Regions from separate parts of the Homo sapiens genome. Here region 2 is linked to region 1. Evidence: fine-mapped expression QTL. A gene starts in region 1. The other region holds a variant in brackets. All regions are shown on one strand. Distances are from middle to middle.

Region 1 (5,516 bases):
GATGGTCTTTCCCTCTTTCCTGCTCTCCACTGATTTCTTCCCACGCTCCCGTCTTGAGAACCATGATGATCCCCCCTCAGCATGGTAGTCTCTTCCACCCTGAAGGTACACCCCACCTCCCCACCAGGTCCCAGGCCACATCCTCTTACTTGAAGTAGCCTTCCCGACCAGGAGCACACATGTGTCCTTGTCACTGCTGCAGGTCTTCATTTGGCCATGGCACCTGCTCCCCGCCGCCGTACATATTTCGCAGTGTAGTGGGCACCCTGCAGTGTAGACAGAGGGCGAGGCTGTAGTCATGGGTGGTGTGGTCTTCGGACCACGACTTTGACTTAGGACTTTTGTGTCCTGAGAGAGGAGGGACCAGCAGCTCCCTGGTTTTTCATGGGCGGGATGTTGACCACTGCCCAAGGAACTGTCCAGAGTTGGACGAAGAAGCAGTGGTGATGCCAGCAAAGCTGCTTCCAGGGGCGGGAAGCGACTCCACCATGAAGCCTGTTTGCCTAATTACATGGCTGGGGATTTTGGATGCCAGGGTCCGCTGAGAAAGCTCAGGGGCAGGGAGGGGTCGTGATGGAGGTTTCCATGGACTTTTGTGAAACTTCAGGTCCAGCTGGTTCTTGAATGTGGGATTCTCCTCCTTGAAGGTGCCATGTAGGTCTTGTAGACAGCAGGAGCTCAGGCAGGGGGCCCTGAGGCTAGGGTCTGCATCCCAGGTCAAGGAGGGAGAGTGAGGACCAGGAGGGCAGAGGACTTGAACTTCTTGGTTCTGAGAGAGGGGACAGCTAGGGGCCCAGAAACCTGGGTCCTGGGGAAAGTGAGGCTTACTTGGACTCCTGTGTGCAGGGGAGGAGGGGGCTGGGGCCTGAACTTCTTAGTCTAAGGAGAAAGGAAATCTCTCTACCTCTTTTAAAAAAATATATCATATGATATTAATGTATTTTTTTTGAGATGGAGTTTTGCTCTGTCACCCAGGCTGGGGAGTGCAGTGGCACGATCTTGGCTCACTGCAACCTTTGCCTCCCAGTTTCAAGCAATCCTCTCACCTCAGCCTCCCAAGTAGCTAGGATTACAGGCGCCCACCACCAAGCTCAGCTAACTTTTTTTGTATTTTTAGTAAAGACGGGGTTTCACCATGTTGGCCAGGCTGGTCTTGAACTCCTGACCTCAAGTGATCCACCTGCCTCGGCCTCTTAAAGTGCTGGGGTTACAGGCATGAGCCACCGCACCTGGCCTTCTCCCTCTTTTTTTTTTTTTAATTATATTTTTAAAGATTTCCCTTTCCAGCCATGCTCTCATCTGATTTCCTAGAATTGAGATGTGTTTGGGATCCTTCCTGGAGGATGGAGGATTCAGAGCCCACCAAGCCCCTCTCTCAGGGATCCAATCACAGGAGCTTTTCTTCTCTGGGACCCCCAGGCTTTCTCTTCCTTTACCCTTGGCCTCTTCCATGAATCTGAATTTCCAGAATGCCTCCCCGTTCACCTTGAGGACTTGCTGAAGGCTCTTTCTCTCTCTATATCTCTCTCTCTCTCAATCTGGGACCTCTCTCTTCCTGAGGTCCCAGAGACAGTTCAGGTCCCTTGTCACTTACCAAGACCCAGGAGGGTGCAGAGCAACACAAAGGCCAGCAGAAAGGTCTCTGGTCTCCTGGAGAGCCTCATGGTGTGTGTATCAGCAGTACCTGGTCCCCAGCTTTTATAGGAAGCTGAGGAGGGGTGGGTCTGGACCCACATTCACCCTACGGGGAGAAATAGCTGAGGTCAGAACCCAGGGCAGTCCTCTGTGGCCTCCGGGTTGGGAAGGCAGAACCAGAATCCAAAAGTGACCTGGGCATCTTGTGCCCAGCCCCCCACCTCCATGGAGACCCCAGGAGTCTGGGCTTCCATCCCCCTCTTCTATTAGAACCCAGAAAGTCACCACCCTGTTTTCTCACCTTCCCACGGCCCATTGTTGTTTGTTTGTTTGCTTGAAGACCAAGACGGAGTTGGGCCTCTTGATTCCCAGTGGCTGCAAGAACTGGGATTCCCTCTCCTTCTCTCTCTTCCCCTCTCCTCCCAAGGAAGCACCCAGTGTGGGTAGGGCCCCACCTTGGAGCACCCAGCATGTCCAGGCTGGTCCTGCGGGTGCGGGGTGCCTTGTCTCCCTTCCCCTCTCTTCATGTGCTCGGCTCACACTCCTTGTGTGTTTGGGCTGTCTCCAGCTGCGACCCCACCCAGGGCTGCACCCTTGGGTCTCCAAGGCACCGAATGAACAGAGGGATGTCTGTCGGCAGTCATAGGCGGGCGTAGTAAAAGACAGATGCCCACAGTCCACATATTGGGAAACTGAGGCTTTTGTGGAAGAACTCCAGGATAGGGGTGTGTGTGTGTGTGTGTGGTGGGGGTTGGGCACATGCTTTGTGTTATATTTAGGACGCAGAACCCTTCTCTTTTGGCCTCAGGCATAAGGCTGAAAGAGATCTGCTAATTTTTTTCGCGCGTGCGCGCGCGCGTATGTATGTATATGTGCGTGTGTGTGTGTGTGGCAAGGGGACAGAGAGAAGAGTGCAGCCGCCTGAGCCATTTGAAGAGATCCTGTTGCGTAGAATCCAGGTTCCCTACGAAACTACGAAAATTCACTCAGATTTGCTGTCCTAGCCCAGCGCAGTCGCTCACGCCTGTAGTTCCAGCACTTTGAGAGGCCGAGGCAGGTGGATCGCTTGAGCTGAGGAGTTCGAGACCAGTCTGGGCAACATGGCAAGACCCGCCGCCCTCTCACCCCATGTCTCCACAAAAAATACAAAAATTAGCCGAATGTGGTGGCGCGTGCGTGTAATCCCAGCTACTTAGGAGGCTGAAGTGGGAGGATCCCTTGGCCCCAGGAGACAGGGGTTGCAGAAAGCCGAGATCGTGCCACTGCACTCCATCCTGGGTGAGAGAGCAAGACCCTGTCTCAACAAAAAATTTTTAAAAAATAAAATAAATAATAATACAGCAAAAAGATTTGCTTTCTCGGCTTCAGTGTGGGCGGTAACTCCATCGTGCAATGAGAAAGGCGAATTTCTTCCAGACACCAATCCCGGAGGTCGCTTCTGTTGCTAGGCTCCCAGAAAGCAGGGTTCGGACGTCATTGGGAGGCGAGGCTAGAGCGGGGTTGTGTGTGGCGGAGGGAGGCGGGGCTGGAGGAAACGCTCGTTGCTAAGGAACGCAGCGCTCTTCCCGCTCTGGAGAGGCGCGACTGGGCTTGCGCAGTGTCGACGCCGGCGCCGGCGCGCCGGGGTTTGAAAGGCCCGAGCCTCGCGCGCTTGCGCACTTTAGCCAGCGCAGGGCGCACCCCGCCCCCTCCCACTCTCCCTGCCCCTCGGACCCCATACTCTACCTCATCCTTCTGGCCAGGCGAAGCCCACGACGTTGACATGCCGGAGATCCGCCTCCGCCATGTCGTGTCCTGCAGCAGCCAGGACTCGGTGAGGGACCTGCATGGGGGAGGTTGGAAGACGTGAGGGAATTAATGAGGATAGCTCTTAAAAGAGCTTTTGGGGTTCTCTTGGAAGTCTAAGGAGAGTCATGGGGGGATTTCCAGGAGGCTAAAAGTGAATTGTGGAGAGATGTTGAATTAGGGACGTTCCGGCGTCTAGGGAACTTCCGGAGAGAAAAGGAGGAATAGGGAAGCTTTCTTGGAGAGCCCATAGGTGAACTTCCACGGGAAAGTGTTGTAGGGGAAACTCCAGGCAGAGTGTCGGGGGATTAACGGGAGAGCTTAAATCTGGGGGTCGTAGAGGCCTTGGGAGGACTCAAAGGAATCATCTGAGAGCTGGAGGCCTAGCTGTCATCTCTGTGCCCTAATTCTCCTCTCCCACTGTTGTTTCCAGACTCACTGTGCAGAAAATCTTCTCAAGGCAGACACTTACCGAAAATGGCGGGCAGCCAAGGCAGGCGAGAAGACCATCTCTGTGGTCCTACAGGTGATCCTGCCACCCCACCTCCTCCTCACTAGGAGTCTGGAGTCCGGGGTTCCAGATTCTGCTCCTGAGCCAACTGGCAGTGGGTTTAGTCACTTTCTTTGCTGGGCCTCAGCTTCCTTACTCGGAAAATGGGCAGCATAATCCCTGTGCCCCTCAGCAGAGAGGAAAGGAGACCCAAGGATTAAGTCCAGGATGACCACAGGAATCAGTGTGTGGTCCTGGGCAGGTGGCATCTACTTTCTGGGTTCCAGTTTCCTCAGCTGGAACAAAATGAATCATTGCCACGTACTCTGCCTCCTGCAGCCAGTGGGCTCAGGGCTGGAAGGTGTCCAGGAAGGTCGTCTAAGCCAATCAACTCCACTTTAAAGAAGGGGAAACTGGCCGGATGCCGTGGCTCATGCCTGTAAACCCAGCACTTTCAGAGCCTGAGATGGGAGGATTGCTTGAGCTCAGGAGTTCCAGACCAGCCTGGGCAACATATCAAGACCCTGTCTCTATTTTTATTAAAATAAATAATTTTTTTTAAAGAATAATAGCCAGGTATGGTGGTTCACACCTGTAATCCCATCACTTTGGGAGGCCGAAGCTGGAGTATTGCATGAGCCCAGGAGTTTGAGACCAGCCTGGGCAATACAGTAAGATGTCATCTCTACCAAAATTTTATAGATTAGCTGAGTATGGTGGTGTGCACCTGCAATCCCAGCTACTGGCGAGTCTGAGGTGAGAGAATTGCTTGAGCCCAGGAGATGGAGGCTGCAGTGAGCTGAGATTGTGCCACTGCACTCCAGCCTGGGCACCAGAGTGAGACCCCCAAAATATAAAAAATAAAATAATAATAATGAGAGCTGGCATTATTCAACGTTACCTGTCAGTCGCTGCTCTACACACCTCACTCACATGGATTAGCTCATTGAGTCCTCATAAAAAACCCCAAGAGGCAGGCTCTGTTATCCCCACTTTTACAGATGAGGAAACTGAGGCCCAAAGAAGTTATACAATTTGCCTGACAGTCAATCTTTTATTTATCTGTTGAGACAGAGTCTCACTCTGTTCCCAGGCTGTAGTGCAGTGGCATGATCTTGGCTTGGCTCACTGCAGCCTCTACCTCCTGGGCTCAAGCGATCCTCCCACCTCAGCCTCCTGAGTAGCTGGGACTGCAGGTGTGCACCACCATGCCTGGCTAGTTTTTTTTGTATTTTTTTAGAGATGGGGTTTCCACCATGTTGCCAGGCTGGTCTCAAACTCCTGGGCTCAAGCGTTCCTCCTGCTTCAGCCTCCCAAAGTGCTCGGATGACAGGCATGAACCATTGTTCCTGGCCTGGGGGCTGCTTTATGACTATAAGGAGCAGAACACTCTGTGGATAGTGCTAGGGTGACGGAAAAATTAACCTTTTGTGAATGGGCAGTCATTCAGCAAATATCCACTCCTCTCCCTCCCACTGGAGGGGGAGTATATTTCCCTGCTCCATTGATGAGTTTGACCATATGATTTACTTAATGGAATTTCAGCACATCTAACTTCAGCAAGGGCCTTAAATGCACTTGGCTTTTGTGCTCCCATAATATGCCA
Region 2 (5,000 bases), 54 kb before region 1:
CTCTTTTTTTTTTTTTTTTTTTTGAGACAGAGTCTCTCTCTGTCACCCAGGTTGGGGTGCAGTGGCTCAATCTCGGCTCACTGCAACCTCTGCCTCCTGGGTTCAAGCAATTCTGCCTCAGCCTCCTGAGTAGCCCGGGCTACCACTGCCTAGCTAATTTTTGTATTTTTTTAGTAGAGACGGGGTTTCGCCACGTTGGCCAGGCTGGTCTTGAACTCCTGACCTGAGGTGATCTGCCCGCCTTGGCCTCTCAAAAGTGCTGGTATTACAGGCGTGAGCCACCGCACTGGGCTGACTTTGTCTCTTAAAAGAAAAGAAAGTGTTCTAAAGGTGAAGGGATGAGCAGTGAGGGAAGGCCTCTCTGAGAAGGTACTGATATGATTTGAGACCCAAATGGGAACAGGAGTCAGCCCTGGGAAGATGGGGCTTGGGAGGTGGGGAGAAGAACATTCCAGGCAGAAGGAAGAAAAGGGAAAAGGCCCTGTGGTGGGAGCGAGCTCAGCATGTTTGAGGGACAGCAAGGCTAGCGAGCCCAGAGTGAAGTAAGGTCAGCAAGGGGCCAGGCCATATAGCACCTTGAAGTCCCCGGGAAGGGGTCTCTATTTTATTCTACATGTTACGGGCAGCCCTCGGAGGGTTTTAAGCAGAAAGGTGAATTGATCTGATTTACCTCTTTGAAAAATCGATCCGGCCACTGGGTGGAGAATGGCCCTGGAGGAGGCAGACAGGGATGCAGACAGACCCACGAGTAGGCTTTTGCAGAGTCCAGGTGAGGGATGATGCTGGATGAGAGTGAGGGTAGGAGAGGCAGACAAAGGTGATGAGATCTGGGATATGTCTTGGAGGTAGAATGGACAGATGTTGCTGATGGAATGGATATTGGGGATGAGGGAAAGGGAGAGAACTTGAATGATTTCTAGGTTTTTGACCTGAGCAACCAGGTGGATGGTGGTGACATTTATTGAGATTGAGAAAATTTGGGGAGGAAAATATCTGGGGCAAGGATTGGACATGTTAAGCTTGATATTCCAGGAGGTGCTAGAAAAACCTCAAACAGTGGCTGAAATACCCAAAGTGCTATAGTTTCAGCTACTCATGAAGCTGAGGCAGGAGGACTGCTTGAGCATAAGAGTTTGAGTCCAGCCTAGGCAACATAGTGAGACCTCATCTCTAAAATAAATTAAAAAAATAAAAATACCCAAAGCGTTACACTAAAACATAAAAGAAGTCCAGAACTAGGAGTTGAGGGCTGTTACAGCAGCTCCACATCTTCACCAGAGACTCAGGCACCTTCCAGCTCTTGGTTCCGCCATCCCCACTGCTCTTGTCCTCATGGTTCAATATGGCTGCCTAAATTCCACGCGTCACACTGTTAGTTCCAGGTGGCACAAAGGTGACTCAGTAGAAAAAGGGTTTGTCCACCTGTTTCAGGAAGTCCTCCCAAAATTGTCACGCAACATTTTGGCTTATATCCAACTGGACAAAATTTTATCAGATGGCTTTACCTTGCTGCAAGGAGACTGAGGAATGCCTTTTTCTGCTGGACATAGTGCAACCATAAAATACAACCAGTGTTCTTTTCTTTTACTGAGGAGAAAGGGAAAAATGGATGTCAGAATAGGAAGCCAGAAGTCTCTGTCTCCATCCCCCAGAAATAATCTTTTCTACCCCTCAACTTCCAAATTAGGTTACCTACCCTCTTACAGAAAACATAACACTTTCTTTTATTTATTTCTTTTTTTTTTTTCTTTTTTGAAACGGAGTCTTGCTCTGTCACCCAGGCTGGACTGCAGTGGCGCGATCTTGGCTCACTGCAACCTCTGCCTCCCAGGTTCAAGCGATTCTTATGCCTCAGCCTCCTGAGTAGCTGGAATTACAAGCACCCACCACCACACCTGGCTAATTTTTGTATTTTTAGTACAGACGGGGTTTCACCATGTTGGTCAGGCTGGTCTCGAACTCCTGACCTTGTGATCCGCCCACCTCGGCCTCCCAAAGTGCTGGGATTACAGGTGTGAGCCACCGTGCCCAGCCACATAACACTTTTGATTACCGTGATTGGTTCCTACCTTCCCATAAATCTTAAAGGGCAGGGACCTCATCTAACTCATCTCTGACTACTCAGCCCCTGAAAACCTACGTGATGCTCAGGAAATACTCCTGAATGAATGCAACCCAGCACCTGAATGTAAAAGACATGGATAGTTATCCAGCACTTAAAGACAAATAGCCAGATCTAATCATGGCATATTCCTGCTTCAAAACCTTCACTGGCCCTTAGGATGAAAGCAAATCTCCTAGGTTGGCATTCGAGGCCCATCACAAGCGGCTCTCACAACCCCCTGCCAATGATGGACACTTAATCCAGACAGCCAGGAGTGGATATACAGATTCAGGATACAGAATCAGAGATTTGGACGAAGATTTTGGCACTGCCACTCTTGGCTGTGAACTTGGGCAAGTCATTTCATCTCTGTGGGCCAATTTTCTCACCTATAAAATGGGAATGGGAGCAGGACACGATAGCTCAAGCCTGTAATCCCAGCACTTTGGGAGGCCGAGGCGGGTGGATCACGAGGTCAGGAGTTCCAGACCAGCCTGGCCAAGATGGTGAGACCCCGTCTTTACTAAAAACACAAAGATTAGCCAAGTGCAGTG[G/T]CAGGTGCCTATAATCCCAGCTACTTGGGAGGCTGAGGCAGGAGAATTGCTTGAACCCGGGAAGTGGAGGTTGCAGTGAGCCGAGATCGTACCACTGCACTCTAGCCTGGGCGACAGAGCAAGACAATGTCTCAAAAAAAAAAAAAAAAAAAAAAGAAAAGAAAAATGGAAATGGGGGAAAATGGGGATAATAGTAGCGCAGGCCGGGCAAAATGGGGATAATAATAGCGCAGGCCGGGCACAGTGGCTCATGCCTGTAATCCCAGCACTTTGGGAGGCCGAAGCAGGCAGTTCACTTGAGCTCGCAAGTTCAAGACCAGCCTGGGCAACACGGTGAAACTCCGTCTCTAAAAAAATACAAAAGTTAGCCAGGTGTGATGTTGTGCACCTGTAGTTCCAGCTACTGGGGAGGCTGAGGTGGGATCACTCGAGCCTGGGAGGCAGACATTGCAGTGAGCTGAGATCGTGCCACTGCACTCCAGCCTGACCTTGTCTCAAATTAAAAATAATAATAATAATTGGCCAGGCGCGGTGGGTCGCACCTGTAATCCCTGGACTTTGGGAGGCTGAGGCAGGCGGATCACTTGAGGCCAGGAGTTCGAGACCAGCCAGGCCAATATGGCTAAACTCTGTCTCTACTAAAAATAAAAATTAGCCCGGCATGGTGGTGCATGCCTGTAATTCCAGCTACTTGGGAGGCTGAGGCTGAAGAATCGCTTGAACTTGGGAGGTGGAGGTTTCAATGAGCTGAGATCACACCACTGCACTCCAGCCTGGGCAACAGAGCAATACTCTGTCCCAAAATAATAATAATAATGATAATAATCATGTCTACCTTACACAGGGATTGTGAGGATTAAAGGTAAGTTATATGGGTAATGCCCTTAGCACAGGGACTAACACTGCAAGTACCTAATAATTGGTAGCTATGGGGGTTATTGTTATTTTGAAGACAACAGATGATGATATTAATGCTGATGATTAGTCTTGGCTTTCAGCTTTCCTAAATGCTTTTCTCTGATGGTTCTAGATTCCCCACCTTGTTTTTCTGATGGATTAATCAGGGTAGGTTAAAGGCTGTAACAGACACCCCTGAAATCTCAATGGCTTAACAAAAAGGTATATTTCTTGCTCATATCACAGTCCTATACAGGCGGGTCATGGGGGACAGTCAGTTAGAGACCCAGGTTCCTTCTGGCTTGTGATTCTGCCCTCCTCTAGGCTCCTTGGAGTCCTCTCTGTTCAGCCAGTGTGAAGGATTATGAGGGAGATGGGTCAGGCTGCAAGAGGTGTTTCTCTTCCACCTACATCCCATTGGCCAGAATTGGTCACATGGCCCCACCTAACTATAAAGGATGCTGGGAAGTATAGCCTAATTATGTATTGTATCAGTTAACTTTAGCAGTAGAACAGATCACCCACAACTTAGGAGCTTAAAACAACCACCACCTTATTTGTTCATGATTCTGGGGTTCAGCAGTTTGGGCTGTATCAGATGGGCAGATCTTTTATTGGTCTCAACTGGGGTCACTTGTGTGGCTGCTGTCAGCTGGTGGGGCAGCTGGGGCTGGATGATCCAGGATGGCCACACTCACACAGCTGGCGATTGGTGCTGGCTGCCGGCTGGGCTTCTCTTTCACCATGATTGTTCATCTGCAAAGACACTAGTCTGGGTATCTTCATGCAACAGTCTTAGGGCAGGAGTGGAAGCTACAAGGCCTCTTCAGGCCTAGGCTCAATATCACTTCTAGCAAATTCTATTGGTCAAAGCAACTCTCAAGGCTTACCCAGACTAGTAGGGGACAAAGTGCCTTCTCAATGGGAGGAATGGCAAAATCAACTTGCAAAGGGCATGTCCAGGGACAGGAGAATATTACGGCTATCTTTGCAAACGGGCTACAACATGTGCCCAGGTGTGAAAGATGAGGCTTGGTGAACACACAGCAGTCTCCCACACCTTGTGAACTCCTGCTTACTCTTTTTTTTCTTTCTTTTTTTTTTTGAGACAGAGTCTCGCTCTGTCGCCCAGCCTGGAGTGCAGTGGCTCCATCTCGGCTCACTGCAACTTCCAACTCCCGGGTTCAAGCGATTCCCCTGCCTCAGCCTCCCGAGTAGCTGGGACTACAGGTGCGCACCACCACACCCAGCTAATTTTTTTTTTTTTTTTGTATTTTTAGTAGTGACAGGGTTTCACCATGTTGGCCAGGATGGTCTCTATCTCTTGACCTTGCGATCCGCCCACCTCGGCCTCTCAAAGTGCTGGGATTACAGGCATGAGCCACCGCGCTCAGCCTCCTGCTTACTCTTTAAGATCCAGATCCAATGGAGCTTTCTTGCAGAGC

Evidence for each region. PIP is the estimated chance that this variant, and not a neighbour inherited with it, causes the effect. A credible set is the group of variants that fine-mapping cannot tell apart.
Region 2: its variant is the best candidate, but not a certain one, in a credible set for the expression of XRCC1 in whole blood (TOPMed, PIP 0.76).

Annotation. Positions count from the first base shown.
Region 1 is chr19:43,573,340-43,578,855 of GRCh38, reverse strand. It overlaps XRCC1 (X-ray repair cross complementing 1), which reads left to right and starts at 3,329. Exons shown (of 17, transcript NM_006297.3): 1 at 3,329-3,448; 2 at 3,854-3,946. The coding sequence starts at 3,398. It overlaps PINLYP (phospholipase A2 inhibitor and LY6/PLAUR domain containing), which reads right to left and starts at 3,055. Exons shown (of 6, transcript NM_001193621.3): 1 at 1,937-3,055; 2 at 1,595-1,741; 3 at 150-266. The coding sequence starts at 1,664. RefSeq lists enhancers at 1,903-2,428, 2,429-2,955, 2,956-3,115 and a silencer at 3,216-3,375.
Region 2 is chr19:43,628,095-43,633,094 of GRCh38, reverse strand. The region is part of intron 1 of CADM4 (cell adhesion molecule 4); the gene reads left to right. LOC105372411 (a long non-coding RNA gene) reads right to left here. Exons shown (of 4, transcript XR_001753942.2): 2 at 4,108-4,311; 3 at 671-1,587. Among named protein-coding and RNA genes, the nearest start is that of CADM4, 9.3 kb to the left of the region's middle. The variant G/T (reference allele first, on the strand shown) is at 2,659.